Linked DNA regions of Homo sapiens. The protein of the gene in region 2 purifies or fractionates together with the protein of the main gene of each other region. This does not show direct contact. Each region holds a gene or a part of one and is shown on either strand. Other genes may lie near its edges. The genes, in order: GLS, HMGCL, PNPT1 and MGME1.

Region 1 (7,026 bases), on a different chromosome or scaffold from region 2:
TAGCCATGTGACCTAATTTTAGTTACTGATCCCTAGTTTCCTTATGTGTAGTATATGCGTCACCTGCCTTGCCATATTATGTGGAAGATAACATGAGATGATATGTGAAATTCCTTTGAAACTAGCCTTTTTTTTCCCCCTGGTCTGTATGAATTTTTTCCGTAAGTTTCTTTTCCTTTGGAATACATATTTAAATTTGGCTGTTATAGAATCTACTGTAATGTGACATTTCTATACTTCATTGCAAAAATCAAGAAACAGCCATAGAAGTGGTACTGACTTTTTTGGAGAAGGGCTGCATCAAATTGAACGGCCATTGAGATTAGCAGGAGAGTACCCGAGTTGGCATTTGGCAAATTAAGAATGTGCTGCCTTATGACAAACAAAATTCCAATTAATGTTAAGTATAAATTAGGAAATGATCATTGGAATTCAGAAAGCCTTGCATGATTAAGTCGACCTTATCACAAATCTTTGCTATCTGGGGCAGTATTGCAAGTCGATTCTGTCGTTTTTGAGAAATAGGGAAGAGATTTTTTATATAAATAGGCAATGTAGTCAAAGTTAAACACACAATGTTCTAATTCACTGTACTTAGTTTTCCTCCTTGCTATTTCCAAACCCCTTTGTGCCTCTTGTAGATCTTGGAGTATGGCTGAGGAAAATTTATAAGTTGAACTCATTCTTCTCCTATCCACTTTATTTTTTGACCCCGTCTCATCCCAATTTTGCTTACTATTAGCTAAAAATAAAATGTGGAAAAATTTATTTTCATTTTATGGGTAAATTTGGGTTTGGTACGGTGAACTATTTTCATTATTTTGATTGTATTTAAATGCAAAAATTTTATCCTAGAGGGTATTCTTAGCACCCATAGTAAATATCAAATAAATATTAATAAATGGTCTAAAGGATAACATTTTGGTTTAGGCTTACAGAGCATCTGAGACAGATCTGCTTTATATTTTTCTTCCCCTTTTTCCTTTGCCTGTTACCATATAGATGGGGATGCCGAACTTTGTTATGGGTGAAATGTCAGGCACTGTAGCATTTTTTTCTAAAATGGTGATTTCTCATGTAGACACTATCATAATCTTCATGTATGGTGCTTTATCTTAAAAATATTTCATGGCTCTTTTTTTTTCTGTTGAGTTAAAAGTAATTATGCTTGTGTATTCCACAGAAAGTATTAATATTTAAGCAAATTTGAATATCACATGGGATAATAACAAATCTTAGTGTTTAGAGGCTGGCACTTCCTAGTCTAGTTCTGCCATTAAAAGACTGAGTATCTTTGGCCAAATCAGGGTAAATCTTAAAAGTGGGTAGGACTTCGGTCAACTAAAATCTTCAGAATGTCCTCAAGTTTATATTAAAGTAATCTCTTTGGAAGAAATATTTCAGATCTGTATGAAATACCAAATAAAATAGATTATCTTAAAAGTGAACAGTAATATTAAAAGTAGTATGAGAATTCTGCTTTTTCTTTGTGTTAGCTGTGCTCCATTGAAGTGACTTGTGAATCAGCCAGTGTGATGGCTGCGACACTGGCTAATGGTGGTTTCTGCCCAATTACTGGTGAAAGAGTACTGAGCCCTGAAGCAGTTCGAAATACATTGAGTTTGATGCATTCCTGTGGCATGTATGACTTCTCAGGGCAGTTTGCTTTCCATGTAAGTAATTGTTTAATCTTATTTTCTCTGGCAAGAAACTAGTCTGAACTGGTTCTTTTAAAAATGCAGTTTGAACTTTGCTTCTAAAGCTGTATATTAATTTTTGAGAGAGAGGCTTGTTTTCAAGGTTAATTTGTTACAAGATTAGTAAGGAATAGAGATAAGGTCTACCAGATGTTCTTAAGAACTTGGAAGTTTGATTTATAGAACCTCATCCCTTCTGCTTTTAAGGCAATCCAGTGTACAAGGTTAGTACAGTCTTTCTTTACTTTTTGTTTTTAATGTTTAGCATTATGATTATGTATCTTAAGAATTCTCTAAGTTCAGAAAGATTGCAAAGATGTGACGTTTCACATCTTTGGTTACGGCCATAGCTGTTTTAAGGACTAAAAGTGTATTAAAGTTAAAACTTAACAAAAATGTACTGCTTTAAGCTCTGTTGTGCATTTGCCACTTGTAAAGTATATAGACTTTTTTTATTTCATTCTGCTCATGTCAAGTCATAATGCCCTTCTAAAAGCTTTTTTTATTTTGGAAATTTTCAAACATGTAAAACGAGAGAGAGAGAGAGATACATTTAATGTTATCCATCACTCAGCTTCATTAATTATGAATACATTACTAATCTTGTTTCATCTGTATGTGCATCTGTTTCCCCTATCCTTGTCATATTTCAGTATGTAATTCTAAATAAGGATCCTTAACAAAACATAACAATAATACAGTTTTTACATATAAAAATTAAATATTACATATCAAAACTTTAATATCATTATTAATATCAATATTAAATTGAATATCAAAATATTTAGTTAGTGTTTAGATTTCCTGGATTATCTTGTAAATTATTATTTCTTTTTTTTTTTTTTTGAGACGGAGTTTCACTTTGTTGCCCAGACTGGAGTGCAGTGGCACGATCTTGGCTCACTGCAACCTCTGCCTCCTGAGTTCCAGCGATTCTCCTGCCTCAGCCTCCCGAGTAGCTGGGATTACAGGCGCCTGCCACTGCACCTGGCTAATTTTTGTATTTTTAGTAGAGATGGGGTTTTGCCATGTTGGCCAGGCTGTTCTCGAACTCCTGACCTCAAATAATGCACCTGCCTCAGCCTCCCAAATTGCTGGGATTACAGGTGTGAGCCATTGCACCTGGCCTATTATATTATTTTATAGTTTGTTTGACTTAGGATACAGATGAGGTGCATACATTATGATTGGGTTTTGTCTCCTTTTTTTTTTTTTTTAAATCTATTGGTCTTCTTTTGACCTGTCTCTCTTTTTTTCTTGTTATTTTTGGTTGGAAAAACTGGGTAATTTAGTCTATACAGTTTTCCACTGTCTCTACATTGCTGATTACCTCTGTTCCATTGTCCCTTGTATTTCCTATAAATTTGTAGATCCAATTCAGGTGTGTTTTTTTTTTTTTTTTTTTTTTTTGGTCTGCTTGTTTTGTTTAGTTTTGTGTAAAAGTACTTTATTGGTATACTTCTTTTATTTTTGTTTGTTTATTTATTTATTTATTTTGAGACAGAGTCTCACTGTGTCGCCCAGGCTGGAGTGCAGTGGCGTGATCTCGGCTCACTGCAACCTCCATCGCCTGGGTTCTAGCAATTCTCCTATCCAGAGGTACTGACTGACTGAATGTTAGTAAGCAATTAATGAACACTGCTCTAATGACATTAATTTTTTTTTTTATCATTTGTCAAGTTTTGCTAATGTAACTTAAATTTTTTGAGGAGGAGTAATTTAAATTACCATTTTAGAAAATCTTTTAAGAATATATAACTTTTTATTGTTTTCTAGTTGTAAAATATTTTTAAAAAATAATTTGTTATATTTAAAAACAATACGTTTATCTTAGAACAATTAGAAAATATAGTCAGGAAGAATAAAAGCATCCATAGCCTCACAATTTAGATGTAACTGCTATAATTCCTTAGAATGTATCTTTAAACAATTTTTCTATATTCATATCTATCCCAAACTGTTTCATAATTTTTTTTTTTTTGAGATGGAGTCTTGCTTCGTCACCCAGGCTGGAGTGCAGTGGTGCGATCTTGGCTCACTGCAACCTCTGCCTCCCAGGTTCAAGCGATTCTCCTGCCGCAGCCTCCCGAGTAGCTGGGATTACAGGTGCCTGCCACCACACGCGGCTAAGTTTTGTATTTTTTGTGGAGACGGAGTTTTGCCATGTTGCCCAGGGTGGTCTTGAACTCCTGACCTCAGGTGATCTGCCCACCTCGGCCTCCCAGAGTGCTGGGATTACAGGCATGAGCCACCGCACCCGGCCTTATAACTTTATTTATAAACATGTTGATAAAAATTTATCTACAATATTTTTAATGTTGAAATTCTATGGTATGTATATATATATATTTTTTTTTTCGAGAGGGAGTCTCACTCTGTTGCCCAGGCTGGAGTGCAGTGGCATGATCTCAGCTCATTGCAATCTCTGCCTCCCGGGTTCACCTTTCTCCTGCCTCAGCCTCCCGAGTAGTTGGGACTACAGGCGTGCACTTTGGGAGGCTGAGGCGGGCGGATCACAAGGTCAGGAGATAATTTTTAATTTTTAAACCAATTTCCCAATTGTGTTTTTTTTTTTTTTGAAACTGGATCTTGCTCTGTCATCCAGGCTGGAGTGCAGTGGTGCGATCATGGCTCACTGTAGCCTTGACCTCCTGAGGTCATGTAATCCTCCCACATCATCCTCCAGAGTAGCTGTGACTACTGGTGTGCACTTCCATGTCTCACTGTTTTTTGTAGAGACGAGATCTCCCTGTGTTACCCAGCCTAGCCTCCAACTCCTGGGCTCAAGTGATCTGCTTGCCTTGGCCTCCCAAAGTGCTGAGATTACAGGAGTGAGCCATGGTGCCCAGCCCCAGTTTCCCTATTGTTGAACATAACATTTCTTATTTTAAAATGTTTACCTGAATACTCTTTTACTGAATTATTTTTAGGTTGGTCTTCCTGCAAAATCTGGAGTTGCTGGGGGCATTCTTTTAGTTGTCCCCAATGTTATGGGTATGATGTGCTGGTCTCCTCCTCTGGATAAGATGGGCAACAGTGTTAAGGGAATTCACTTTTGTCACGTAAGCATATTTTCTTAATGTAAATAATGGTGTTACAAGTTGAGCCATCCAATGATTCTTTTTTTTAACCCATTTTCCATAGTTCATTAACTCTTGGCCCTCCGCCTATAGTGTGCCAGTTACTAGGGAGCCGTGGAAATACTCCCAGAGGAGCTTCAAGTTGTCTCTGTCAGACAGCTCCCATTTAATTATTCCCACAGATTATATTTGTTAGATGCTAATATTTTAATTTTCATGGTTATAATTAGTATGAATTTTCAAAAGCTCAACAAAAGGTATTAAACTTGGAGAAGTAATTTAAAAGCCAGTATATCTTAAGAATTATTTTGGTTTATTATATCTTTAATCTGCATGGTTAAATATCTTTATCCATTGACTACCTTTAAACATTTTTTTGAGGAAATAAGCACTGAAAATTAAAAAAAGATTAAACCATTTTTAAACTGTTACTGCTCTTGATAGTTCTGTATTTTGTTGTTACCCAGTTCCTGCTAATGTTTGAGCTTCTAGTTTTAGTTACATTGATTACTTGCTTGAGTTCATATTAAGTACCATACTCAATTAAAATTGTTTTATTTTCCAGTCTTTTATATTTTACAAAAACTAGAGTATGACCTTGGAGTGCATATAAAATATAGTAGATTGTAACCAGAGTACTTATTTATATTTTAATGTGGCTTTACACTTATTTGATAGAAGAATTCTTTCATGGGGCCGGTTATAAACCCTATTTTGTAGAAGATGAAAGATGATTTGATTGGCTGAGCCCTAGGATCATGTTAGTAAGCAGTGTTCTTAAAACTTATATCCATATCTTACTCTGATTTTAGTTCTCTTCTTGATGCATTATACTACTTTATTAGCATGTAGTGATGATTTCTAGGCTGGACGATATAAGCAGAGTTTGTTAAAATATGGATATATATAACCAATGAATAGCCAATTTCTTATACCTGCTCTGTATAACTGTTTACAGGATCTTGTTTCTCTGTGTAATTTCCATAACTATGATAATTTGAGACACTTTGCAAAAAAACTTGATCCTCGAAGAGAAGGTGGTGATCAAAGGGTAAGCAAAATTCTTATTTAGATAAGTATATAAAATTTTTAAGAAGAGAAAAAGTGAGATTTGCCTGTATAAATAAAATCTTAGTTTGTTAGTGGCCTCGGGTCTTTGCTAATCATAAATGAGTGTAAACAAATTGTTGACATATAAATCCGGGATCACCAGTATTAAATACTTAAAGATTGTTTAATAGATAGTTAATAGATACAGATATTTAAATATTGCTGTTTTGTTATTTAAATTGAAACTAGTTAGCCTAGTGTCAGGGATTTCCCCTTCCATTTTCTGCTATTTTAAGCAAGATTTTTAGAATTGATTCTGTTAAAAAAAGAACAAAACAAAACATTGGAATGTGCTGCATGCTATAAAGAAAGCATCGTTTTAATATTTGTTCGTCCTAAATTGAAGTTTAACTTCTTGCATACTGTGTAGATGGATATGTAAATGGAAAAGGATTATCATATTAGTGAGAGACCGTATGAAGCCTCAAAAGTTTTATAAGTCACTGTAGATGAAATATTTTTTTCCACCGTGTTTAATGCAATATTCCTAATAATCTTACGGTCCTATTTGTTTGTTACGAGTTTATTTGGCTTCATACTATTGTACACATATATTCCTTTTTTTAGAAGTAGTATTAAGAGTCAGGACTTAACTTTTTTGGTCTATATAGTTTTTCACTGTACCAAGGGGCTTGTGCTGAGAATTTTGATTCAGTTTCTTTGCGTACCATATTGAAAATGTTTGTAGTAAAATTACCTAATTAGACCTCAAGATAATATGAAGAACTTCTAAGTAGAAAATATTTTTAATACATACTAAGTACATTTTCTGTAGTGCTAAACTAAATTTTTGTTAGTTTTTATCAAATTAATTTCTGTTACTATGTAAGAATTATGCAAAACCAACAGAATAGAAACTTCCATGGGAGTCGACCTGAGTAACATGAAGCAAAATGTCAGAGGTGGTGGTTTAAAATGTTAACATTTTAATAATGCTCATTGAAAAATACCATTTTATAGCTTGGACCTTTCTTCACTCAAGTGCACTAATAAATTATGTATGTTGCTTGAACAACTAGCATTCCTTTGGACCATTGGACTATGAAAGTCTCCAACAAGAACTTGCTTTAAAAGAGACAGTATGGAAAAAAGTGTCACCTGAGTCAAATGAGGACATCTCTACAACTGTAGTATATAGA
Region 2 (7,026 bases):
CAGTATCAAGACAGGTAGAGGAAAGAGGAAAAAAAAAGTATTGTGTTACTTGATAGGGAAGACTAAGATTTTGAGCTGACTTTATATAGAGGAGACTCAGGGCATTTTGTAAAAACTGTCTTCAGCTACTGGGGGTGTCACCTCCCCTTAGACCCATGCTTGTCATCACCCAGCCTATGACTGTAACAGAAGAGAGCCCTCCTGCATCTCGCCCATACCCCGAAAAGTCCAGGACTGACTACTCCTCCCCACACTCAGTAATTGCTCTCTTCTGGGACAGCTGTGTCCTTCATGGTTTATGTGTTATTTTAATAACTTTAAAGAGTGGCTACTTTGTACCAAACACGGTGCCAAACACTAGGGATGAAGTGGAGTTGAGACAGACAAGGTCCCTCAAAGAGCTTATGTTCTACTGGAAGAGACATTGAGTAGGCATTCTTTATCGTGCTTTGAAGGAAATAATTATAGCTCTGCAATAGCGAAAATAATGGGGGTGGGAGGAATGGCAGCTTTGCAAAGGGTGGTCAGAGGAAGCCTCTCTGCAACTGAAAGATGAGAGAGAGATGTAAGAACAGCCAGTTTTTTTAAAAAAAGCCAGATGAGGAACCCTGGGGCAGAGGGAAGAGAAGGCAGGGAGCTTAGCAACCTGTTGGGTGGAGGTTGGGAGTGGACAGTAGGGGCGAGTGATGATTCCAGGAGGTCAGAGGAGGCAACTCATACAGTCTTTTCTTTTCTTAATTGGAAAGCATCAAGTGACATATAGAGTCATTTAATTTTTTTTTTTGAGACAGGGTCTCGCTCTGTTGCCCAGGCTGGAGTGTAGTGGCACAGTCATAGCTCACTGCAGGCTCAACCTTCTGGGCTCAAGCGATTCTCCCACCTCAGCCTCTTGAGTAGCTGGGACTACATGTCCATTCCACCACACCTGGCTAATTTTTCTATTTTTAGTAGAGACGGGGTTTCTTCATCATGTTGGCCAGGCTGATCTCGAACCTCTGGCCTCAAGTGATCTGCCTGCCTTGGCCTCCCAAAGTGCTGGGATTACAGGCATGAGCCACCGTGCCTGGCCTTTTTTTATTTTTTTTGGAAATGGAGTCTTCCTCTGTCGCCCAAGGTGGAGTACAGTGGCACGATCTTGGCTCATTGCAACTTCCACCTCCCTGGTTCAAGCAATTCTCCTGCCTCAGCCTCTTGAGTAGCTGGAGTTACAGGCGTGCACCACCACACCCGGCTATTTTTTGTGTATTTTTAGTAGAGATGGGGTTTCACCATGTTGGTCAGGCTGGTCTCAAACTCCCGACCTCAAGTGATCGCCCGCTTCGGCCTCCCAAAGTACTGGGATTACAGGCATGAGCCACTGCCCCCCGCAATACCTGGCCTTTTTAAACTACTTCTAACATACATACAGCAGCATACAGAGTCCTATAGGCCATGGTGAATAGGTGAAATGGCTCAATGAAGTTCTGGCTTATGCAGTAGGGTACATGCGATGCCTTTGACAGAGATGGAAAGGATGGAGTCAGATGGGCTTTAGGAGAAATTAGAGTTCTGTTTCGGGACTGCTATATGAAGAGATGCGAATAGAGCTGTCAGGTAGGCAGTGGAAAAGGAGTCTGGACTTCAGGGGAGAACCGGTACTGGAAGGATGAATCTCTTGCTTGTTCCTGTTACTAAGTGAAATATTCTTTTTGTTCTTAATTCTAAAATAGACCAAATGTGAATTAAATGGTGAGAAATATTTCTTCTTGTCTCATTATTAGTGAAGATAGATCCATTCTTTCATATTGGTCTCCCTGGGAATTGTGGCAATCTCTTCCTCATACTTTTTGTTTCCTCTTTTAAACCAAAGGTCAGCACCTCATCTATGGGCACTTTACCAAAGCGGGTGAAAATTGTGGAAGTTGGTCCCCGAGATGGACTACAAAATGAAAAGGTAAAGTTGGAAATGAGCCAAAAAAACAGTTTTTTCAAGCATCTGCTTTGAGTATTACGTGTGATAGGTGCAATGGCAGTTGACAGAGCTATGCAAGATGTGATTCCTCTGCACAAGTTAGGGGAGAGTAGAGGAGGCCAAACAGGGACAGACACCTGTGACAGTTAAATGATCTAAAATGGTGGGGCAAGCTGGATGGGTGGCTCATGCCTGTCATCCCTAATTACTTGGGAGGCTGAGGTGGGAGGATGGCTTGAGCCCAGGAGTTTGAGACCAGTCTGGGCAATATAGCAAGACTCTATCTTATTAAAAAATATATGTATATATATAAACTGAATGGTGGTGCAACAGGTTTGGTGTCCCCAGGTCCACAGCCCAGTGGGGTGGGGTAGACCCAGCAATTCCATGTAAGGGGATTTATCCAAAGCAAGTCACGAAGGCCAAATGTAGAGATTTAGCCTTGGGGGTGTTCCTTACAAACCTGTTTGGTAAGCACAGAACAGTTGGAAACAACTTAAATATTTAGTATGAGGAAAGTTGGGTCAGATACACTATGGACTTTTTATAAAATGAAATATTATGAAGCCATTAATAACATAGGTATATATAAAGTGACTCAAGCAGTTTATAAAATAGTACATGTGACTGGGCATGGTGGTGGCTCATGCCTGTAATCCCAGCACTTCAGGAGGCTGAGGCAGAGCACGATTCTGTCTCCAAACAAAAACAAATAGTGCATGTGCGCGTACGCACGCGCGCGTGTGTGTGTGTGTGTTTTTGGGAGATGGCATCTCACTCTGTCACCCAGGCTGGAGTGCAATGGCGCAATCTCGGCTCACCTCAACCTCCTCCTCCCGGGTTCAAGTGATTCTCCTGCCTCAGCCTCCCGAATAGCTAGGATTACAGGCCCCTGCCACCATGCCCAGCTAATTTTTGTATTTTTAGTAGAGATGGGGTTTCACCAGGTTGGCCGGGCTGGTCTTGAACTCCCGACCTCAGGTGATCCACCTGCCTCAGCCTCCCAAAGTGCTGGGATTACAGGCATGAGCCAATGCGCCTGGCCATGTATTTTTTAATCTTAACACTTTTATGTAAGAAAAAAGTTTATATATGTATGGGAGCATTTATCTAGACTAGGACCTAGACCAGCACTTTCTGTGAAGATGGAAATATTCTGGACCTGAGCTTTTCCATGTGGTGGCCACTATACCCATGTGGCCCTTGAGAACTTGAGATGTGACTAGTGTGGCCAAGGAATTGTATTTTTATTTTTATACAATTTTTATTAAATTTAAATAACCACATGTGACTAGTGACATATTGGGCTGCACAGATCTAGAAAGTTACACACCAGGGTGTTAATAGCGTTATCACTGGGAGATTCTAAGGGTGGTTTTCTTTTGTTTTTGGCATGTTTTTCTGAAAGAATCATATATTGATTATTTTTTCAATAAGAAAAGCTTTTTTCTTTTTCTCTTTTTTTTTTTTTTTTTTTTTTTTTTTAGCACGTCCATCCTAGCTTTAATAGTGAGTGCTTGTTGGAAACAATAGTGTGTAAGTTCCCGAAGGGCAGAATCCTGTCTGTTCTGCTTCTGCTTACTGCTATATCCCCGGCACCTAGCACAATGCCTGCAACATGGAGGGCTTTCAAAAATTATTTGACAGGCTGGGCATGATGGCTCATGCCTGTAATACTGGCACTTTGGGAGGCTGAGGCAGGCAGATCACCTGAGGTCAGGAGTTTGAGACCAGCCTGGCCAACATGGTGAAACCCCATCTCTACTAAAATAAATGAGCTGGGGTGGTGGCATGCTTGTGTAATCCCATCTACTCTGGAGGCTGAGGCAGGAGAATCGCTTGAACCCGGAAGGCGGAGGTCGCAGTGAGCTGAGATTGTGCCACTGCACTCCACTCTGGGCAATACAGTGAGACTCCATCTCAAAAAAAAAAAAATTTTGTGGAAAGATTAAGTTAGAGCAGTGGGAGAGAAACTGGAGAAGGCAGGCAAGGGGAGGACCTAGCGAGAAGGACCTGGAGTATTTTTGTGTGTTCTTTTTGTTTGAGACAGGGTCTTGCTCTGTGTCACTCAGTGCAGTGGCACAATCATTGCTCACTGCAGCCTCGACTTCCCAGGCTCCAGTGATCCACCTCAGCCTCCTGAGTAGCTGGATCACAGACACGTGCCACCACGCCTGGCTAATTTTTGTATTTTTTGTAGAGAGGGGGTTTCGCCATGTTGCCCAGGCTGGTCTCAAACTCCTAAGCTTAAATGATCTGCCTGTCTCAGCCTCCCAAAGTGCTGGGATTACAGGCGTGAGCCAATGTGTCCGCCTGGACCTGGAGTTCTTAGAATTTTTTGCGTAATCCTGTAAATATTAGGGAGCCATAGAAAGCTTTTGATGCAAGAGAATGGAAGGTTGGAAGCTGCATTTTAGGAGGATTCCTGTGTAAGATGAATTAGTGGCTTGAGACTATGCCATGTTATATACAGGATAATGATGGTAGATTTGGAAAGAGGAATCCATGGAATCTGTTGAGCTACTGGACATGGTGGGGAGGAAGATAAAGAAGCTATACGCTGAACACATGAGGCTGAAGTCCTATGCCAATTGGGAGACAGAAGCGAGGAGGGTGTGATACTTTGGGGGCCCCATCCCATACTCCCCAGAGGGTTAGTCATCTCTGCCCTTTCAGGCCATCACACATTGCTCTCAGTTTGTTTATGATGGGATTATAAATTAACACACATTTACTTACGGGAAAGCCTGCATGGCAGAATAATGTTTCTATGTAAATAACTCCTTTTCAGGTGAGAAGCTGCATCCACTGCAAAAAATTATCTATAGTACTTGAACTAACAGGTACTGCATTTTGAGGCTGTTTTGTTACTAACTTTGCTGCCTTGGTGTTTCTCTCTCCACTATAGAATATCGTATCTACTCCAGTGAAAATCAAGCTGATAGACATGCTTTCTGAAGCAGGACTCTCTGTTATAGAAACCACCAGCTTTGTGTCTCCTAAGTGGGTTCCCCAGGTGAGCCCTAGCCCTCAATGAAAGGCCTTTCTCTAGGGATGAAAAGTTTTGCATTTGCCTTTGAAGCAAGTAGAAGTTGAGAACATAGGTTTCCAAGCCCCTGGCTTTGAGAGGTCTCAGGTGATTCATAGCACTGTGTTGCAGCAAAAGAACATGACCCAGGATTCAGGGCCTTGGGTTCAGTCTTGGCTCTGCTCTGACTTGCTCAGTGACATTGCTAAGGCCTTCCCCTCCTCAGTGTTAGAGATGACCTCTTCTAGCCCTAAAGTCTAAAACCCTCTATGCCTGTCTGTGGTTTCTTTGTTTGTAAAAGAGGAAGACTGACAACTCCTGCTTCACAAAGATAGTTAAGTGAAGAAGAAACATCCTGTTACAAAGGAGTGCTTAACACAGAGCTGAGCTCAGTGCCTGGCCCAGAGTACATTCTCAATAAATGGCTGGTAGTAGTATTCCTGCTGTTTCTGCATATGTAAAGCTGGCAGTATGGGCCATATGGAGAAATTGGGATCTCAGCCAAACCAAGGGCCCTTCTGAGCCATCAGCAGTCAAACAAACAGTAAAAGTATTGGAGAGACTCAGCTCTGCAGAAGGAATTACTCGCTAAGAGTTCTGGAGAACAGAGGTTTTGTGATGAAAAGGTTTTCTCTAACTGAACTCTCTGTCTGCTCTTGGTGATGACTTGGCAATGTCTCCCTTGGTTCCTAGATGGGTGACCACACTGAAGTCTTGAAGGGCATTCAGAAGTTTCCTGGCATCAACTACCCAGTCCTGACCCCAAATTTGAAAGGCTTCGAGGCAGCGGTAAGAGGATAGCTTGTTGGTGGGGGCTCCTGAAATGAGATTGATGGCATTGGTCCCTGCCTTGTCTTGGCGCCTCAGTCCCCTGTCCTGGGATGTCCATCTGAATAGCTTGTCTGTCAGCCAGACCCTGGGGCAAACCTGGCCCTGCCACTCACTGCTCTGTGATCTTGACAAGTTGACAAGCCTATAAAATAGGGCTAAATGATAGTACCTGAAGTTGTGAGCATTTCAGAAGATAGGATGCATGTACATTGCTTAGCAAGAGCCAGATAAAAGGTAACTGCTTAATAAATGTTAGCTCTTTTGATTATCCACTTCTTTAGAGAAATGTAACCAAACTCTCCACAAGAGTTTCAACAGTAGTTGCTGGCATCTGCCAACTTTCTTACAATTTTAGACAAGAACATCTTTGGAGGCGTTGGTTCTGTATTTAGGCAAAAACCTTTTTTTGGCTGGGCACAGTGGCTCACACCTATAATCCCAGCACTTTGGGAGGCTGAGGCCGGAGAACAGCTTGAGGCCAGAAGCTTGAGACCAGCCTGAGCAACATAAGGAGACCTTGTCTCTACAAAAAAAAAAAAAAAAATCAATTAGCTGGCTGTGATGGCATGCACCTGTAGTCCTAGCTACTCGGGAGACTGAGGCACAGGATGGCTTGAGACTAGGAGTTCGAGGCTGCAGTGAGCCATGATAATACCGCTGCACTCTTCCAGCCTGGGTGACACAGCAAGAAAAAAAAAAAAGCTTTTTCTCAAGAGTGACTTCCAGGGTGGTGATGGCAGTGGTGGTGGTTTCCTTGGGGAAAATCAAAGTTTTTTTTTTTTTAATTAAGAGAAATTACTGTGTTTGTTTCCTAGTGCTACTGTAAGAAAGCACTACAGGCCGGGCGCGGTGGCTCACGCCTGTAATCCTAGCACTTTGGGAGACCAGGGCGGGCGGATCATGAGGTCAGGAGATCGAGACCATCCTGGCTAACACGATGAAACCCCGTCTCTACTAAAAATACAAAAAATTAGCCAGGCTTGGTGGCAGGTACCTGTAATCCTAGCTACTCAGGAGGCTGAGGCAGGAGAATCACTTGAACCCGGAAGGCGGAGGTTGCAGTGAGCCAAGATCATGCCACTGCATTCCAGCCTGGGTGACAGAGCAAGACTTTGTCTCAAAAAAAGAAAAAAGAAAAAAAAAAAGAAAGCACTACAAATTGGGTGGCTTAAAAACAACAGAAATTTATTCTCTCACAGTCTGGAGGCCAGAAGTC
Region 3 (7,026 bases), on a different chromosome or scaffold from region 2:
GTGTGAGCCACCATGCCTGGCCAGATATACCTACATTTTTATAAGATTTAAAATTTTTTTTAGAGATAAGAGTCCTGCTATGTTGCCCAGGCTGGAGTACAGTAGCTATTCACAGGTATGATTGTTGCACACTACAGTGTCGAACTTCTGGGCTCTAGTGACCTTCCCACTTCAGCCTTCCAAGTAGCTGGGACTACAGGCACGTACCACTGAGTCCAGTGTATTTTTATAAGATTTTAAAAAAGATTACACATTCTAAATTATGACGTCCACATACCATTTACTTTTCTGTGGAATTATAAGGTGATATTTTAAATGATGGGAATGAACAACTTGACATGTGTATCAGTAACCTCTAAACATCTATTTCAAACATCTATTAACCGAAAGTCATGATCCTTCAGCTCTTATACTAAGAACTTCCATACATTAGAGCAATACACATATTCAAATTGACCTAGTTCAATTTGATAAGTAAACAATTTTTTTTTTTTTTTTGAGACGGAGTTTTGCTCTTGTTGCCTGAGCTGGAGTGCAATGGCGCAATCTCGGCTCACTACAACCTCCACCTCCTGGGTTGAAGTGATTCTTCTGCCTCAGCCTCCTGAGTAGCTAGGATTACAGGCATGCGCCACCACGCCCGGCTAATTTTTGCACTTTTAGTAGAGACGGGGTTTCACCGTGTTAGCCAGGATGGTCTCGATCTCCTGATCTCATGATCCGCCTGCCTTAGCCAATAATCTTTCTGTTTAGGTAAATTTGAAAAATATACATCATTACTACCACATTCATCCTAGTTAGAATCTCATTTATATTTATTCCACTCTGTTTATGATTTGGTAACTAATTTGAAAGGCATTATATTATCAAAAGTGTATCAGATTAGCTCCCTCAACTCACTATATCTGTTAACAGTTCTGAAGAAATAGGCACTGGCTTTGAATATGGCCTGTTCCAGTTTGTGAACCGTTGTAGGCAAGTAAAGTTGTTGGGCACAGAGGTGACCTGTAGGATGACTGAAGGTAAACTGTCACTACTGTATACAAAGAAGAAAAATAAGATGTAGGAAGAGATCTGTTATAATAACATATGACATATTCTATCTAAGTTTTTCATATATTTCAGAATTGTAAAAACAAAACTATGTAATTTTTTCTAAGATGTATAAATGACTTACTTTTAATAATAAATATTTCTTGATTTATAATGTAAATACAATTAAACAAATATGGGTTACTCGAATTAAAAAAATGGCACATGTAAATGAGCATTTTAGTACAAATAATTAAAATGTATTTATATTATATAGAAATCTACACAATGGAAGATACTACTAAAATGTTGCTCTACAGCACATCACCCTAGACAAAATAGAATTCTAGAATTCTCTTTAAAAAAAAAAATCACTGAGAATTAGATGATGACTGTGAAATAGGTTCTCCCATTACAATACTACTTCTGTCATTCAAAGTTCTGACCACGGTTGTAGCTGGCGACTGAAGCACTTTTCGAGAAAGCCTCATTCTTCCATCGGCTGGGTCACGTCCAAAGTATTTCACCTGTGTTAAAGAAACAGATCTTCCTTTAAAGTTACAGCACATTGAGTGACATCTAAACTAATAGACATTTAAATTTACATGGTCCAAATAAGGCAATGATTGTTTTTACTTGTTCACTGAAAGCATTGTTCAGTGCTAAGTGGACGTATACACTTAACACATATAAGTAGTCATTATAAAAGAGAAAAGAGACGGGGCAGTTAGTTGTTCAACTATAATCTGCCGCTGAACTCATCTGTGCCTTTTTATTCTCACCAGGCCAAGTCCTTATACTGGGGGAACAGTCACAGGCATAGTGAATGATCCTAGACAAGGGCTTTGAGAGCCTAATTGTGTTATATACTATAGAGGATTATGCTTAGGTCACTTGGATTTTCACTACTGCTCAAAGGACCAACACATTAGTGTTTATTTGGCTTCACCTTGGAAAATGAAAGTCAGGGGCAAATGCAAAGGTTTAAAGTTCCTTCTGATGTGAAAACAACAACAACAACAACAACAACAAATAAACCAAAAAATCAACCTTATACAGAGATACTATATCTTAGCACTCATCTTCCCCTGGAGGCTACTTGGACAATAAGACTACACATTGGGAATAAACCAGAAGCCTTAGTTACTCAGGTCATGCGTATTAGCGTAAGTGAAAGACAATGTGGTGGAGCCCGAAAAAACAGACTGGCAATGACTTCTTTCATCCACTCATAAAGGACTACAAAGAAAGGGCCAATTTTGTTATATGAATTCTAGGCCTGAATAACATGGCTCTTACCAAGCTCAAAAACTTTAAGTAGTGGAGAAACAAAGTCTCACCTCCTCAAAGATGACATTCAAAGACTTTAACAAGTTACCTTATCACAGTTCTTACGTCAGTGCCCAAATCATGGAGTCTGCATAGCTAACACTAACATGCTCATGTATTTTTTAAACGAACTAAGGGTGACTACCATTTTGGCCAAGCTGCAAGCTCCTTGAGGGAAAGAATTGTGTCTTAAATCCTTAATGAGTCTGTTCAAGCAATTCTAAGATTAAAAATGAAGTACTGCATACAAATAAAAAACTTCATAGATGGTGACTCTTCTTTCAACTTTTTGAAAAAAACAATGGAAGCTTCAAGAACAATTTACAACTTCAAGGCTAAAAGGTGGAATACAAATACCTGAATTTCTTGGCCAACTTCTAATCCTAGGGCAGTAGGATGTTTAATCTGGAAAAAAAAATGTTAATCTATTAGTTGTTGTGCATAATTATGTAGTGTCCATGGAAGTACACATTTTTTCCTCAAGCTTTATTAGTTTTTCTGATTAAAAAAATCAGTTAGCGGCTGGGCGCAGTGGCTCAAGCCTGTAATTCCAGCACTTTGGGAGGCAGAAGCGGGCAGATCAAGAGGTCAGGAGATTGAGACCATCTCTGGAGGTCAGGAGAGTGAAACCCCATCTCTGCTAAAAATGCAAAAAATTAGCCGGGCATGGTGGCGGGCGCCTGTAGTCCCAGCTACTCAGGAGGCTGAGGCAGGAGAATGGCGTGAACCCAGGAGGTGGAGCTTGCAGTGAGCCGAGACCACGCCATTGCACTCCAGCCTGGGTGACAGAGAGAGAATCCGTCTCAAAAAAAAAAAAAAAAAATCAGCTGGGCATGGTGGCTCACGGCTGTAATCCCAGAACTTTGGGAGGCTGGGGCAGGCAGATCACTTGAGCTCCGGAGTTCGAAACCAGTCTGACCAACATGGTGAAACCCTATCTCTACTAAAAATACAAAAACTAGCTGGGTGTCGTGGCACACGCCTGTAGTCCCAGCTACTTGGGAGGCTGAGGCAGGAGAATTGCCTGAATCTGGGAGGCAGAGGTTGCAGTAAGCTGAGATTATGCCACTGCATTCCAGCCTGGGCGACAGAGTCAGACTCTGTCTCAGAAAAAAAAAAAAAAATCAGTTAATTATAAAGATTTAAAATACAGATGTATTAAGAACATAAAAATTATCCAAAACAGGCTGGGTACAGTGGCTCACACCTGTAGTCCCAGAACTTTGGGAGGCCGAGGTGGAAGGACTGCTTAAACCAGACTGGGCAACGTGAAGAAACCCCATCTCTACAAAAAATCCAAAAAAATTAGCCGGGTGTAGCGGTTTGTGCCTGGGGACCCAGCTTCTCCAGAGGCTAAGGTGGGAGAATCACTTGAGCCTGGGAGGCTGAGGCTGCAGTGAGCTGTGATCATGCCACTATACTCCAGCCTGGGTGACAGAGCAAGACCCTGTCTCAAAACCCTCTCAAGTTGTAGATAACTACTGCTAACATTCCAATGAGTATCCCTTCAGATGTCTACTTAGTGTATGTGTACGGCATTTATAAAAATGGACCCTCTGTGCTTACTGTATATCTTAAGGACATCTTTTTTTTTTTTTGAGATGGAGTCTCGCTCTGTCATCCGGGCTGGAGTACAGTAGCATGATATCCGCTCACTGCAACCTCTTCCTCCCAGGTTCAAGAGATTCTCCTGCCTCAGCCTCCAGAGTAGCTGGGATTACAGGTGCACGCCATCATGCCCAGCTAATTTTTTCTATGTTTAGTAGACACGGGGGTTTGCCATGTTGGCCATGCTGGTCTCAAACTCCTGACCTAAAGTGATCCGTCCACCTTGGCCTCCCAAAGTGCTGGGCTTACAGGCGTGAGCCACTGCACCTGGCCCAAGGACATCTTTTCATATCAATAAATTAAGAATTACCGTTAAGTTTCAAACTATATAGTTTATTTAAACAATCACCTAAAGACAATAAATTGCTTTAAATTCCAGTGTTGCAAATGTTAATGACTGATGAATATAGGAGAAAGATATATGAGGGTTTAGTGTATCATTCTTTCAACTTCTTTGTACATTAAAAACTTTTCAAAATAATAAGGTGAAAAAAAATAAGTTGCAGTGTAGCACAAATCATGAATTCATCTACTCTAATTATCCTCTCCAAATAAAATCCTACAATGTCTAGGTCCATAGACATTTACCAAACACCCTCTAAAAAGTTTGTCCCAATTCACACCCCCATCAACAGTGTATGAAAATGTCCATCTTTTCTCTTATACACACTGAGAATTTTAAACTATCTGAAAGTTAAAACTGATATCTTAATTTCATTTGCATTTCAAAAATTGCTGTTGATATTAAATATCTTGGTTGGCTTTTTATAAAAATAATTTGTTCATGTTCTTTACTTATTTTTCTATTGATATTCATCATTCTTACGGATTTATAAAAGCCCTTTGTAAATTAAGCTTCTGCATATAAGCATTTTTACTTTAGGTTGCTGATTATCTCTTAACCTTATTGAAATTTTTGCCATATAATTAAAAAATTATGGGGTCAAATTTTGTAAGTTTATTTACTTTTTTGGCTTTGATATCATGTTGAGGAGTTCTCCACTACTAATCTTATTAAAACATCCAATTTTCTTCTAGTAAACCCTCCTGCCCCAACAAGATTATCTTTTCCTACCACCTTTTTTAAAAAGCACATTTAGCTCTTTGATCCAGACAGGATTTAGGTATAAAAATGAGTAGAGATCCTGTTTTAAGATAACCAGCTGTACCAATATAATTTATTAAATAATCTTTATTCACTGACTATAATACAACTTCTAGCGTATATTATAATCCCATGTATATTATTTCTAGTTTTTGTTTTCTTGTTGCATGGATTATCTATTTCTGGGCCGGTAATATACTATTTTATTGTCTATGGCTTTATAATATATTTTAATATATGGTAAAACAGACACTCTTTTTTTTTTGAGACAAAGTCTCACTCTGTCGCCAGACTGGAGTGCAGTGGCACAATCTTGGCTCACCGCATCCTCCGCCTCCCGGGTTCAAGCGATTCTCCTTCCTCAGCCTCCCGAGTAGCTAAGACTACATGCGCACGCCACCACGCCCAGCTAATTTTTGTATTTTTAGTACACACTGGGTTTCACCATGTTGGTCAGGATGGTCTCCATTTCTTGACCTTGTGATTCACCCGCCTCGGACTTCCAGAGTGCTGGGATTACAGGCATGAGCCACCCTGCCCAGCCAATTTTTCTTTATGCTAAACAATGTAAAACTTTTTGCCAGCAGCATCTCTGCCACTTGTTTTCTCTGTTTAGGCTAGTAGTAGGCAAAGTGTATAATTCTTACCAACCTAGGTAATTTCAATACAGTGTTTCAAGGCAGTTATAAAAATAATAACAATAACATCTGTCTTTTTACCTTTCGTTGATCAAGTTGTGTGTTATGAAGCAGTACCGCAGTCATATTTGGATATAATTTTACCATTACACCAGTATCTCTACAAAAAAATAAATAGTAAGCCTGGTTAAAATAATAAGTATCTGTATATCCATTGACAAATAAAACATTGTTTTCATATGAGGAAAAAGTAAAAAACGAAAAGAAACAATTCTAGCACGTTTTTAGAACTATAAAAAGTATACTTTTCAACTGAAAATATACCCTATAAATAAATATGTGTGAATCAAAGAATGAAGAAAAGATAAAGAAAAAACATGCAATAGAAAAGCTTTTAGAGCCAGGTGCGGTGGCTCACACCTGTAATCCCAGCACTTTGGGAGGCCAAGGTGAGCAGATCACGAGGTCAAGAGATCAACTCCACCCTGGCCAACATGGTGAAACCCCGTCTCTACTAAAAATATAAAAATTAGCTGGGCCTGGTGGCGCGCACCTGTAATCCCAGCTACTCAGGAGGGTGAGGCAGGAGAATTGTTTGAACCCGAAAGGCGGAGGTGGCAGTGAGCCGAGATCGTGCCACTACACTCCAACCTGGCAACAGAGTGAGACTCCGTCTCAACAAAAAAAACTTTTAGAATATATGTTCTTCTGTATTTCTCTTAACAATTTCCAAAAACATTTTTTTTTTTTTTTTTTTTTGCCACCCAGGCTGGAGTGCAGTGGTGCCATCTGGGCTCACTGCAACCTCCGCCTCCCAGGTTCAAGTCATTCTCATGCCTCAGTCTCCCAAGCAGCTGGGATTACAGGCATGTGCCACCATGACCAGCTAATTTTTGTATTTTTAGTAGAGATGGGGTTTCACGAAGTTGGCCAGGCTGGTCTCGATTTTCCAAAAATTTTCGAAATGACATTAAATATTTTAAAAATAGTATAGAATCTCATATGATTAACCTGTAAGGTAAGGATTTAAGGAAGGTGGTCAGGTAAAATGGAATACTTATTTCATTAAAAAACTAATCTTCCCTTTTTTCTCTAATCTATGAAAATAAGCCATCCCATTTCTTATTTTTCACCTGCAATATTAAACAAATTATCTCCTTGCCTTTTATTTTATTTCAAATAGCTTTGAACATTTTTGCTACATTTGATAATTTCCTTTTTCTTAAAAGAGGGATTTTCTTATCCTAAAAAAACAAGCTCTTCTAGCTGGTCAAAAAAAATGCTTTGAGACTGAAATTGGCTTTTTTTTTTTTT
Region 4 (6,958 bases), on a different chromosome or scaffold from region 2:
TTCGCAACAAGCACACAAAGACTAGCTTCTGTAACACAACCTGACCCCACCCATATCACACCATTTTAGAAGGAAGTCCGTTTAAACCAGTGATTCTCAAACAGGCAATTTTGACTTCTTATCACCATGGGAGGGGAGGAGGCCGCGTCCTAGCAGAGGCCAAAAACAGTTGCTTCACATCCTACAACCCAGAGGGCACTCCTCAACAAAAGTGATCAGGCTAAAATGTCAACAGTGCTCCCCAGGTTGAGAAACTGAATTTTAAACTCAACCTCTAGTTTAGATGACCACTAGGTCTCACCGAATGAGGAGTTTACAGCTCAGAAACAAATCTAGAAAACTTAACAGCCTTGGCCAAGCACAATGGCTCATGCCTGTAATCCCGGCATGTTGAACTGGATGGTGAAACCCCATCTCTACCAAAAAATACAAAAATTAGGTGGGCATGCTGGTGTGTGCCTGTAGCCCCAGCTACTCAGGAGGCTGAGGTGGGGGTGATCACCTGAGCTCCCCAGGTCGAGGCTGCAGTGAGTTGTGATCGTGACACTGCACTCCCGCCTGGGTGACAGAGCCAGACCCTGTCTCAAAAAAAAAAAAAAAAAAGCCTCTTGGCCATTTCTACCTATGGCCAAAATAATGTGAACAGATAATGACCTTTTAGAGTATTCACAAATGGGGATCTTAAGACACCGAGTACAAGTTACTGAACTAGAACTAAGGCGTGGGAAGCTTGATACGTCATACTTCCTCAACTTAGAAAATAGTTGCAAGGGTAGCATAAAGCTTCAGTCCACAAAGTTTGTAAGTTTGGACTTGCTATGGTATTGGTCAAAGTTCAGGATTGTTCCTATACTAACCAACTGCACTCCATTCTAGCTAATGGAGAACAAAAATACCCCTAGAGGCAGCTTCCACACCAGTTAAACACGAAACCAGAGCAGCAGTACTTAGTCTACAAACACTCCTGAGTAGGTAAGAGGACAGATATCATTCACCAAAGTCCCTGTAACCAAGCAGTAAGTTAAGGCCAAGTTGTTACTGTCAAGGAAGGAGAACCCCCTAGTTAAAAATAGCACTAGGCTGCGAAGGTCGAGTTCAAATACCAGCCTGGCCAACATGGTGAAACCCGGTCTCCACAAAAATACAAAAATTAGCCGGGCATGGCGGTGAGCGACTGTAATCCCAGCTACTTGAGAGGCTGAGGCAGGAGAATCGCTTGAACCCAGAAAGCGGAAGTTGCAGTGAGCTGAGATCGAGCCATTGCGCTCCAGCCTGGACGACAGAGCGAGACTCCGTCTCAAAAAAAAAAAAAAAATCAAAAACCAGTAAATAGAGGACCAGTTAGGAACCAAATTAACCATGCATCTCTTCCCCTGAACTATTTTCTGAGGAAGAAGGCAAACCCCAACACCCTCGGCTAAAGAATGTAACAAAATGCCAGTGTCTGGCTACCAGACACGACTGACACAGTATTCCCTTTCAGTTTTGCTGAATTGGCCAAAATGAGTATTGGGCTAGAATTCAAAATCCTGAAGAATCAAGTATGTCCCCCTACCTTAGTGAGTCTTAATTAACTCCATCCTTAGGGAGAATTCCAAACCAAAGTAAATTATCAGGAGGGCATTTAAACAATTTAAGTAACACACATTTCAGGTAACACACAAAACATTTCAGTTGACTACCGAAATTGTATTATGGCAAAAAGTTGCCCAAGACTTAGTTTCCCATTATTTCATACTTGCCCCAAACTCCCTTTCAGTTAACCATAACACCATCTAGGCCAGACCACAGCAGGTTATCAGCATCAGCAGAGATCAGAAAACAAAAATAAAGCCACGCGTCAGGGTAATTATTTATTTTTATTGTCTCTTTATTCCTGTAATGTAAAAAGGAAAACAATGTCATGTAACTCTCTTCGCTACAGATACGGACAGTTTCTGTAGCCTCTAAAACAGGCAGGAAATGGCCTTCATAACCATTCTCCAATTTTGCTGGAGGATCAGGGTGGTGGAAGTCATTTTAAAAACCAGCTGCAATATACTGTACTACCAGAGAGTGGGGTGAAGCAATTGAGTCCTTTTACCTAGCTGACTCCGAATCAAGACAGCTAAAAGAATGTACCAGAAAGAAAGAAAAAATAAAATGCTACCAAAATCCCAATCCATTATCTACCCTTTATGGAGAAAAGTACCTTTATAATGTTTTACAAAGAATCGTGGTCTCAAGTTTCCACTTTGTTTTAGTAATAAAGAACTTTCAAAAAAAAAACCACTCTAAACAACACCCTCCTGTATAGAAAGCTCTATTTTAATAATTAATGCAATGATACCCTTGTTGGAACAATCCAGCCGCTTTGAAACTCTGGTATTTACTTACTAGATGAACAAGTTTCTCTATGGAGGTGCCTTTAACTTCTCAAGAAATGTGTAAGTTAAGACGGCTCCAAATTACATTTTAAGAGAGCCTTGTATTTTTAGAGGTTCTTTTTCATCGGTCAGAAAAACTTACGTTGACGATTCTGCAAGAAAGGTTGCTCGCAAACCATGCATCGCAAAGCTACCGAGGCAAATTTAAAGAACCAATGAAAAAGAGTGGAGGCTCGTCTGAATCTTTAATTGGCTATGGGAATTTCAATTTATTGCATAAATAATCTTTTAGACCTCAAGATACACGTGACCTAGGGACAGTTTACATCAATGGGCAAGACTTAAAAATAGACACCAAGTTCAGCAAGTATTTGAGCACCTACTAAAAATTACACAACTCCCACAACAACGCATTTTGCGTTTCTAAAGTTGTAAGCAGCATGTTCGGACGCTTGATGCAATTTCCCAAGTTGTTTGGGCCCCCCCCCCAAAAAAGTCTTCTCAGTAAAAGGTGGGGGGAAGGAGGGTATTTTGGGGGCAACAAACCAAACTGGTCTGTCGCATGTTAAGTCAATTTCACGTTCACCTACTGGTCACCACGAAGCCGAGGAAAGTTTTAAAAAGAACATTCCGGGGTCTCCAGAGATCATCTCTCCAAGTCCGCTCGGCACCGGCGCCTGAGCTGGGGCTAAGGTCCCGCGTCTCTGGTTCTGTCCTAATAGAATCCGGGACATCCACAGGGATTCCCCGGGGCAGCCTTCAGTGAAGACCAGGGAGAGGGGCCGCCCGGGTCTCACGGGTGCTTCCCGCGCTGGGGATGGCGGCGAGCAGCCACGGCCTATGGACGCGCAAGGGAAAGAATGCAGCGACCCCGGAGCTCGCAGGGCCGCCCGCCCAGGAGTCTGAGGCTGGGAGGACCTCACCTTGCTGCGGTCCTCCTCCTGCTGCTGCAGCAACTCGGGAACCGCGGCCATGGCGACGCGGGACTCGAGCAGGGGCCGCCTGGCTGTGCGAGGAAAGAAGAAGCTGGGCCGCCGCCGCCGCCGCCTGGGCGCCTCTCGGGGGCGGCCACGGCCCCGCCTCCGCCGGCCTCCCTGCCCGACGGCGGCAGGAGGCCTCCGGACTCCGCCACCATCCCAGCTGCCCCGGGAGCAGGCGAGCAGGGCGCCACGTGCTCCCCCAGAGCAGCCTCCCAGTCCCCGCTGCCGTCCATCTTGGAGCCGGGCAAAGACGCCACGTGGGGCCTACCCTTGCTCCGCTCCACGAGGAGGCCGCCAACCGCAGGGCCGCGACACGGACGGGAAGCAACGGACACTCTCCCAGCAAGACGCGTCTAGAGAAAGACCGCGTTTCGGTGCGGGGGGAATTTATTACTCAGCCCGAGTCCAAGATGGCAGCGAGCGCTGACGTCACCAGATCTCGTGAGAGCAGAAGGGCGCGATTTGGAGGCTCCCGCGCTTCGGAGACGCCGGCCCTTCCGCTCGGAGAGGTACTCCCTGCCTCTAACTGGTGGCGCGTTGGCGGAGGCCGACGAAAGCCTCGGGTGGGGCGTGAGCGCCGCGGGGCATTCTGGACCTGCTTTGCCTTAGGCTGTGCCTAATTCGAAACCAAAGCGCGGGACGGATGAAAGTACGGGTCGCGAGAGGTTGTTCGCGCCTTGAGAGTTAAGCGAAGTGTGGTGGCTTCCAAGGTACCGACACTTGCCGTAGGCTGGGCTTTTATTTAAGTCGTCTTTTCTCTAATCCAGACTCCTGCCACAGGGGCCACCGCCGTCCTGGCCCCGCCAGGGGTCCGCACCCACGGCGGAGCGGGAGGCGACTTTTTGCGGTCACAGTAATGGGACCTCAGCGCCGCCACCAGCTCTGACCGGCGAGCGACGGGACCCTCCAACCCGATTTCCACGTCTGTGCAACGGGTTCATTCTAGACCCACGGTAGAGGGTGTGAGGACCAAATGAGAAGTATCCACACAGAATACTTAGCAGAGAGCCTGGTGTCTAGGAATTAGTCGTCGTCTGTCACCTAGGACTGTGTGGCCGCCATGGGACGGGCTCCATCTTTGTGTTTTTCCGTGTCTCGCACACGCCTCCCTTCCTGGGCGTCACATTCCTGCAGATTAGAAACTGGGACGTCTTGCCTCAAGCTGTCTACTAATTCGCATTTAGTATGTGTCGGTCCTTCGGGTATTGAGTCTTGATTTATTTATAAATTTTTTTTGGAGGCAGGGTCTCGCTCTGTCGACTTTCTTAAGAAAGGGCTCTGTCCAAACATGTCGAAAAAGTTCACAATTTTGATGTGCAATATCATTCTGATGCAGCTTTCGCTTTGATGGTTGTTTTCTCTCCAATAGGAATACAAACATAAAGGCCTTCGACCGTTGCAAATAGACTAAAGTGAAAACAAATCTGAATGAAGATGAAGTTATTTCAGACCATTTGCAGGCAGCTCAGGAGTTCAAAGTTTTCTGTGGAATCAGCTGCCCTTGTGGCTTTCTCTACTTCCTCTTACTCATGTGGCCGGAAGAAAAAAGTGAACCCATATGAAGAAGTGGACCAAGAAAAATACTCTAATTTAGTTCAGTCTGTCTTGTCATCCAGAGGCGTCGCCCAGACCCCGGGATCGGTGGAGGAAGATGCTTTGCTCTGTGGACCCGTGAGCAAGCATAAGCTGCCAAACCAAGGTGAGGACAGACGAGTGCCACAAAACTGGTTTCCTATCTTCAATCCAGAGAGAAGTGATAAACCAAATGCAAGTGATCCTTCAGTTCCTTTGAAAATCCCCTTGCAAAGGAATGTGATACCAAGTGTGACCCGAGTCCTTCAGCAGACCATGACAAAACAACAGGTTTTCTTGTTGGAGAGGTGGAAACAGCGGATGATTCTGGAACTGGGAGAAGATGGCTTTAAAGAATACACTTCAAGTAATTATCTCAATTCTGATTCTATATGTTTGCTATGTTTTCTATAATAGAGAGCAACGGTGTCAAAAGAATGAGGTTTGGTTTTGTTTTTTTAACTTACTAGCAAGGAACTCCCTTCAGATAGTAATTAACATTAAATAGCACTTTATGTGTATTAACTCACTTGATCCTCATGGTAGTCCTGTGGAGTATAGATACTGTTATCCACATTTTACAGATGAAACTAAAATAGATCAAATATTTGACTAAATAATACATAAAATTCACTTGTTTTATAAGCTACCAACAATATTAGAATTGCTTGTTTTCCTTGATTATTGAAAAAAGTCACCTGGTAACAGAATTCTAGTTGTTTGCTAGATAATTCTGTTTAGAATCCAGTAAATACCCACTGTCCTACTTATTAGCGTAAACTGACTCGTAAATTTAAAGACCTTGAAGCAGACCAGAACACATGACCTATATTTAGACCTTGGTAAACATAATCAGAGGTTCTTCATAAGGATCTGAGGATAAATACACTTTAACCTTCAACTTCTAATTTACTAACTTGGACAAGTGAGGAGAATAGCTTCCTTAAATTTAATATTCCATTCAAAAACAAAGACCATTGGCACTGGTGAATTAGCTAGTCCCATAAATTATATAGGGGTCTTTTGTTAAAGGAAAGTTTCACATCAATCATTCCTTTACCCAAGCTTCCCAAAGTGCAGTACATGTACTCTTAGTAGTACACAAACTCTTTCATTTTTGTTTTAAGAATAGTGTACTGACCCTTGCCATAGCCTGGGCTTCTATTTAAGTCGTCTTTTCCCTAATCCAGACTCCTAAAACTATGCGTGTAACACATTAAACATGTCACATGTTCTAAAGAAAAATACTAAGTATATATAGGTGGTATTGGATATGTACCAAATGGTCAAGGCCTTTGCTCCTTATAATATTCCTCAGCTGTGTGGGGCAAGGATTATATATGCAAGAGCTAACTGCCTTCCTAAGATAGTTAATTAGTAGCAACCACCAAACTATTGTCTGCTTTCCAAGCAAGCAACATAAAAATCTTCTAATGGCATCTTACAGTTTTGTATTTGTACCACTAAAATTTAGAATTGATAGTTTTCTCATGAGAAGTTATTTTCCTTAAACCAGGAATGTACAGCTGAAATTACTAATAAGAAATGTATTATTAAAAGGCAGAAACCTGCTGGAACACATGGGACCCCAGGGCCTGTAGCTCTTGGCACAAAGTAAGGAAGTGCACCAGAGAGGAATTTCTGTTTGGAATGTGAATGAGCCCCAATAGCCCAGGCAGAGAGAAGACTGGTTGTTTTTTTTTTCATAGAGTCAGCTTTGTTGATCTAGATTAGCACTCAGCTGTGTTTCTCAGTTAACTCAGTAGCAACCTTAAGAAATGAGCAGAATCGCTTACCCCAGCACCCCGCCCAGACTTGACCGCCGGGACCCAAGTGATTCTCCCATCTCAGCCTGCTGAGTAGCTGGGACCACAGGCGTGCACCACCATGCCTGGCTAATTTTTTTATTTTTTGTAGCGACAAGGGTCTCCCTATGTTGCCCAGGCTAGTCTCCAACTCCTGTCTTCAAGTGGTGCTCCCACCTCGGCCTCCCAGAATACTGAGACTACAGGTGTGACCCACTGTGCCCAGGCAGAATCA

Evidence for each region.
Region 1: the proteins of HMGCL (region 2) and GLS purify together in Homo sapiens (affinity purification with mass spectrometry; 3 studies listed by BioGRID and IntAct, with this or other methods). This does not show direct contact.
Region 3: the proteins of HMGCL (region 2) and PNPT1 purify together in Homo sapiens (affinity purification with mass spectrometry; 3 studies listed by BioGRID and IntAct, with this or other methods). This does not show direct contact.
Region 4: the proteins of HMGCL (region 2) and MGME1 purify together in Homo sapiens (affinity purification with mass spectrometry; 4 studies listed by BioGRID and IntAct, with this or other methods). This does not show direct contact.

Annotation. Positions count from the first base shown.
Region 1 is NC_000002.12:190,925,810-190,932,835, forward strand, and holds part of GLS (glutaminase kidney isoform, mitochondrial isoform 1 precursor), read left to right. Parts: intron 1-1,496; coding exon 1,497-1,673; intron 1,674-4,627; coding exon 4,628-4,759; intron 4,760-5,735; coding exon 5,736-5,828; intron 5,829-6,847; coding exon of another isoform or gene 6,848-6,877; exon of another isoform or gene 6,878-6,906; coding exon of another isoform or gene 6,907-7,026. UniProt on the Homo sapiens protein: Catalyzes the first reaction in the primary pathway for the renal catabolism of glutamine. Plays a role in maintaining acid-base homeostasis. Regulates the levels of the neurotransmitter glutamate, the main excitatory neurotransmitter in the brain.
Region 2 is NC_000001.11:23,815,417-23,822,442, reverse strand, and holds part of HMGCL (hydroxymethylglutaryl-CoA lyase, mitochondrial isoform 1 precursor), read left to right. Parts: intron 1-1,849; coding exon 1,850-1,933; intron 1,934-4,859; coding exon 4,860-4,967; intron 4,968-5,672; coding exon 5,673-5,768; intron 5,769-7,026. UniProt on the Homo sapiens protein: Mitochondrial 3-hydroxy-3-methylglutaryl-CoA lyase that catalyzes a cation-dependent cleavage of (S)-3-hydroxy-3-methylglutaryl-CoA into acetyl-CoA and acetoacetate, a key step in ketogenesis. Terminal step in leucine catabolism.
Region 3 is NC_000002.12:55,634,834-55,641,859, forward strand, and holds part of PNPT1 (polyribonucleotide nucleotidyltransferase 1, mitochondrial precursor), read right to left. Parts: intron 5,873-7,026; coding exon 5,794-5,872; intron 2,767-5,793; coding exon 2,719-2,766; intron 1,560-2,718; coding exon 1,404-1,559; 3' UTR 1-1,403. UniProt on the Homo sapiens protein: RNA-binding protein implicated in numerous RNA metabolic processes. Catalyzes the phosphorolysis of single-stranded polyribonucleotides processively in the 3'-to-5' direction. Mitochondrial intermembrane factor with RNA-processing exoribonulease activity.
Region 4 is NC_000020.11:17,965,086-17,972,043, forward strand, and holds the start of MGME1 (mitochondrial genome maintenance exonuclease 1 isoform 2 precursor), read left to right. Parts: upstream 1-3,932; 5' UTR 3,933-4,056; exon of another isoform or gene 4,057-4,529; intron 4,530-4,715; 5' UTR 4,716-4,774; coding exon 4,775-5,285; intron 5,286-6,958. Other genes in the region: SNX5 (sorting nexin-5), read right to left, coding at 3,290-3,340. UniProt on the Homo sapiens protein: Metal-dependent single-stranded DNA (ssDNA) exonuclease involved in mitochondrial genome maintenance. Has preference for 5'-3' exonuclease activity but is also capable of endonuclease activity on linear substrates.